2 separate regions of the Homo sapiens genome follow, and region 2 is linked to region 1. Evidence: fine-mapped expression QTL. A gene starts in region 1. The other region holds a variant in brackets. All regions are shown on one strand. Distances are between the middles of the regions.

Evidence for each region. PIP is the estimated chance that this variant, and not a neighbour inherited with it, causes the effect.
Region 2: its variant is fine-mapped to the expression of FBXL2 in thyroid (GTEx, PIP 0.97). The same link has a PIP of 0.9 or more in nasal epithelium.

Annotation. Positions count from the first base shown.
Region 1 is chr3:33,276,445-33,278,944 of GRCh38, reverse strand. FBXL2 (F-box and leucine rich repeat protein 2) reads right to left here and starts at 1,503. Exons shown (of 15, transcript NM_012157.5): 1 at 1,430-1,503. The coding sequence starts at 1,432. LOC124909362 (a long non-coding RNA gene) reads left to right here and starts at 1,591. Exons shown (of 2, transcript XR_007095861.1): 1 at 1,591-1,777. RefSeq lists silencers at 1,233-1,412, 1,381-1,548, 1,613-1,682.
Region 2 is chr3:33,391,237-33,394,268 of GRCh38, reverse strand. It overlaps UBP1 (upstream binding protein 1), which reads left to right. Exons shown (of 16, transcript NM_014517.5): 14 at 815-957; 15 at 1,655-1,706. It also overlaps a transcript of FBXL2 not described here. Among named protein-coding and RNA genes, the nearest start is that of UBP1, 48 kb to the left of the region's middle. The variant C/T (reference allele first, on the strand shown) is at 1,633.

The DNA of each region.
Region 1 (2,500 bases):
TTCAGAGAGCTGTGAAAAATTAATTCCTGGATATTCTTTCTCCTTGCTACAATTGTTAGGGCTTTTCTCACATATAACATATTACAGTAAATTACTGCAATATTTGAAACACTTATATCTTCATAAAATTCAGTTTCTGAAACTCTTGCCAGCTCCATTAATTTGTCACTTAAAAAGCAATTCGCAATTTAAAAAAGAAACATACACAAAATAAAGGCATTACATGGTACTGTGATTTATGGGTGATGTTTTTCTCCTGCCAGCAATAATGCCACACATTTGGAAGTTGCTTTTCCAGAGTCAATGAGAGACACCATCCACCTCCCACCACCATCCCTCTCCTTGGTTATTAAGAAAAAAACTGAGCCAGCCAGGATTCCTAATGATAGTTTTTTCTCCATGAGGCCAGCTGGCACTCGGGGAGCACCCTGCATTCTCAGCTCATCAGCACTTCCACTAAACTCCTGCAGATAAGGAGAAAATCTCCACTTAATTACTCATGGTTAAAACAAAACTAAGTATTTCCCTATTACCTACACCTACCGCCATACCTCCTCAAGTATTCTATACCAAGGGTGTGTCCCCAAGCAAGGAGTCTAGCTCCTCTCTTCTCTTACACCCCGTGAAGGCCTCTGGAGAATTATGCCTTCGGTTGGCAATTCTCTGAACTTGTCTGTTCAAGCCAGCACCTCCGCCGAGTGAAACCGAGCAACGTTTTTAAAACGAGCTTAAAGGGGGCCAGGTGTTATGCCCACGCCGTCTGAAGTTAACTGAACAAAGGTAATGATTTAAGACGTTTACAATGCACTAATTATGAATTAATTAAATCCCTTAGTGAGGGTGCGGCACTCAGAAAAAAAAACCCTCCAGCTTAATGCCCTCTATTTTTTAGAAAGGAGGGGAGGGGTCTCTAAAATCAAAAATTTTAATTTCCACGTGCTAAAAAACCTATCAGAATGCTGATTTTGAAAGGAAGATATATGTCTTATATTAGTTACACATAACTGCATAGAAACAAAACTGGAGGCATATAGACTGCTTTAGTGTAAATATAAATACATATGATATCCATATACAAGATTTTTTTTTTTAACCACACCCTCCTTGGGTGGCTTCCCAGGCTCTCTCGGGCCAAACAGCGTCACGTCGTCCGGCGGCCCACTGGGTGGGGGTCCGGGCTGTCACCCCGACTCCAGCGGCAGGGAACGCTGCATCGCGGTCGCCCCCCGGCAGGCGGGCGCTCTGAATCCCCCAGGTTACCCCTCCCCGGGCCCGCCCAGCCCTGCCCTGCCCAGCAGCCTCGCAGGCCGCGGCCCGGCCTCTCCACGACCCCTGCGCCGCCTGCCCGACCCTAGCGGGCGGCGGCGTGCGGACCCAGCCCGGTAGGGGTAGGGCGGGGCAGCTAGGCAGACGCGGGTCCCAGACTCACCATGGCCGAAGAGCCGCGAGCGAGCCCACAGCCCGAAGTCACACGGCGCCGGCGACGCCCGTTGTCCTGGTGACGCCAGCCAGGCGCCCCGCCCCGTCCCCAAGGTGGGCTCGGAGGCGGCCATTGGTGGTCGGCGAGCACGTGACCCGCAGGGGCGGTGCCCTTTGGACCGCCCACCCCTCGCCCCCGGCCCTGGAACTGGGCCTCTTCGCCTCTCCCACTTCGTATCTGGTCCATCCTCTCAGTCTGATCACCTTGATGTCCCTCACCTGACAGATTACCCAGCCGCAGACTGCCCAGCTGAAAGAGACCATGGATTTTTTTTTTTTTAAAAAAAACGTTATACAGGTAATGCATGATTATTGAAAACATTTTAAATTACCAATAACAAGAATTTAAAAGGATAAAACGACACTCACCCCAGCACCTGAAGTAGCTACTGCTCAGATTCCATTCTATCTGCTTCAAGCTTCCAATGAGTTGTTATAATATACTGTATTCTTAAAAATGGTGGCAAACCATAGGTAACTGTTTTATAATCTACTTTTTTAGATTAAAAATGATTATCTTGGGGCCAGGCGCAGTGGCTCACGCCTGTAGTCCCAGCACTTTGGGAGGCCGAGGCGGGCGGATCACGAGGTCAGGAGATCAAGACCATCCTGGCTAACACGATGAAACCCCATCTCTACTAAAAATACAAAAAATTAGCCAGGCATGGTGGGGGACGCCTGTAGTCCCAGCTACTCGGCAGGCTGAGGCAGGAGAATGGCGTGAACCCGGGAGGTGGAGCTTGCAGTGAGCTGAGATCACACCACTGCACTCCAGCCTGGGCGACAGAGCAAGACTCCGTCTCAAAAAAAAAAAAAAAATTATTATCTTTGCATACCACTTAATGGAATAGCATTCTATGCATGTTGTCTAATTCATTAAATCAACTGGCAATTTGTTGAATGTTTTTAATATGGTTGAAGGGAACTCTAGATATCCTGAAATCTAGTCCATTAACTCTATGAAGAAGGACCCAGTGCGATGGGACACTTGTAGTTCCAGCACTTTGGGAGGCTGAAGCAG
Region 2 (3,032 bases), 120 kb before region 1:
TTTGAGACAGCTTGGGCAACATGGTGAAACCCTGTCTCTACAAATAATAATAATAATAATAATAATAATAATAATAAAAATTAGCCAGGCATGGTGGCGTGTGCCCCCACCATAGTCCCAGCTACTTAGGAGGCTGAGGTGGGAGGATTGCTTGAGCCTGGGAGGCAGAGGCTACAGTGAGCTGTGATTGTGTCACTGCACTCCAGCCTGGGCAACAAAAAAGGACACTGTCTTAAAAAAATAAACAAAAAGAACTATGACTCTTTTAGGGTTCTTTTTGTATATTGCTAGAAATACATGAAGTATATATTATTTTTAAAAACAGCTTTCTTCAGGCATAATTTACATACCATAAAGTCCTCCCATTGTAAGTATATAATGGTATTTTAGCCAATTTAGAGAGTTTGGCAGCCATTGTCAAAATTCAGTTTGAGTTCCATTATTTCAAGAAGATCCCCCATGTCCATTTGCAGCCAATTCCTGTTTTTAAATTTTGAATACATGAAACTATATTCATTGAATAAAAATATGAAGAAAAATTCAAACCTCAAATCTTTTTGTCCAGGGATTTCTGTTAATGTTTATTAAATTATATTTGTGGATATAAATAATGTATTCTTACGTTTTAGATTGGTAGTTCAAGATTTCAAGGTAGTAAGATGGGGGAAAGAAATAGTTTATTCCCATTTAAAATGTTTTTTTACTTTTTTGGTACTTTGAAAGGTGTGACCTTCGTACAGATCCTACAGATCAGGCAGAAAACAGATCAAAGATTACTGTTAAAATGCTTTTCTTTTTTTTTTTTTAATTTCAGTTTATCATGCAATCTACTTGGAAGAAATGATTGCCTCAGAAGTTGCTCGAAAACTTGCGCTGGTGTTTAATATCCCTCTCCACCAAATTAATCAGGTTTACAGACAGGGTCCCACCGGTATTCACATTCTTGTTAGTGATCAGGTAAATCAAATCATTTGTTTTTCCTTTTCAGACTGGTATTTACTTTTATACATGTAATTGTAGAACTGTAGAAAAATTCTGTGACCTCTTTTGAAAATACTTATGAGAATCATTTTCAGAGAGTTGGGAATCACTTTGGAAGAACTTATAACCAAGAGTTTCAGGCATCCTAGTGATAATATGGAATACAAGCCAAGGAAAACTGGCTTAGCCTCCCCCCAGCCCTTTAGGATGCAGCCAATCACTGGGGCACTCTAGGGATAGTGGCAGGCTTTGGCCCTTTTTATGAGGTGAGTCACTGGATGTGTTTTCCTTTTGTCTATTATTTGATGACTAATTTAAAAAAACATGTAAGATATATAATTTTTCCCCTAGTGATTGGTGGCAAGTAATAATAGAAGAGCACTTTATGCAATTTTTGTTCGAGTCATCATCCACTGGAGCCGGCAGGGAATGTGCCCCTGTGGGTCACATGGGTGACTGACCAGGTCTCTCAGGGACCATTATGGACAGGCATAGTGAACACAAGGCAGTGCAGCACGTGTGCATCTTTGCTGCCTCACACTGCCTTCATGAATTATCGTTTTGGCCATTGAGTCCTGTGTTTGTTTGAGAAGAATATTTACTGTTTTAAAATCATTTTAAGAAACGACAGTTGGATCTTAATTGTACTTA[C/T]GCATTTACTTTATCCTTCCAGATGGTTCAGAATTTTCAAGATGAGAGTTGTTTTTTATTCTCCACAGTAAAAGGTACTTTGCATGTGTGTGTGTCTTAAAATGCTGGAATCATGAGAGATGGTGTGTGCCTCTAATTAGTGCCTCTCGTGTTTATTCTTTAAAATGATTGCTTTACTCATTTTAAGAAGAAAGTTTGATAAATGAGAATATTTCTAGTGGTTGTAACAGAAATTAGCATATAAGGAAGAGGAGTCAGTCTTTCTAGATGACTGGAAAAAAAAATCTCAATTCATTCAGCCAACGTCTTACTGAGCACTTTGTGTCAGACACCGTGCTTCTGTCGCTCAGTGGATCTATTGAATAAAACAGAATCCATGAAACTCCTATTGGGGAAAGCAAACCAAAATTGGCCAAGAGATACACAAAATTCCCAATATGTTAAGTTCCATGAAGGAACAGGAAAGTGTGGGGGTACTTATGGATAAGGGAGATCTGGGTTGAGGGGAATATGAAACTGTAAGGCAAGGCTTCTCTGAGGAGGTGTTATTAATCCTGAGACTTGAAGAATGAGAAGAAGCGGGAGCTGGCCATTGGATTAGCATCCCCAGGCAACGTGGGGCTGTGTGCAAAGAAAACACCTGGCTTCTTGGAAAGCCTGGCAGTGGGCCATGTAGGTGCCATGCAGTGTGTGAGGGTGAGCGGATCAGGGCAAATCAAAGCAGGAGGCCGGGTCTGGCATGCGGGGACCGGATGATGATGGTAGTTCGGATTTACTTGAAATGCATTGGGTTGTCACTGAAGTTGTTTAAACAAAGGAGTAGTAATGTGACTAGATTTTTCTTTCACTTTCACAACTCTGTGGAGACAGATGAGAAGGTGGCAAAACGAGGCAGGAGATATCCAGGTGAAAGGTGATGGTATCTTACACGTTTATAGACAGGGTCCCAGTGGGCTCCACTTTTGAGGGAGGAATAGTTCTGACACCTTATTTTCTGTGGAAAGTAACTGGGCAGATGGTGATCTCATTGAAGAGGTAAGTATGGTTGGGGTAAATCAACCAAGAGTTTGATTTTGGATATGTAGAAATGTCAAGTAGGCAGTTGACTATTACCAGTCTGGGGCTCAGAGAAGAGGCCTGGGCTTGAGATGTAAATTTGGAAACCTTCAGCATATCAGCAGTGACTCAAAGCTGTAGAAGTTGTTAAGGTCATTTAGGGAGAGAATATGAAAAGAGCCAGGACCAGGCTTAGGTGGCTCCAACATTAAAGAGGAGGGATTCCTAAATGTAAAATTATTTGAGAAGAGATCATACATTCATAGACTGTTTTAAAAGTCAGGTGAGCTAAGATCCAAATCCGGTCTTAGCACAAAAGCTGCCCCTAGAAGAGGGAGATGTCA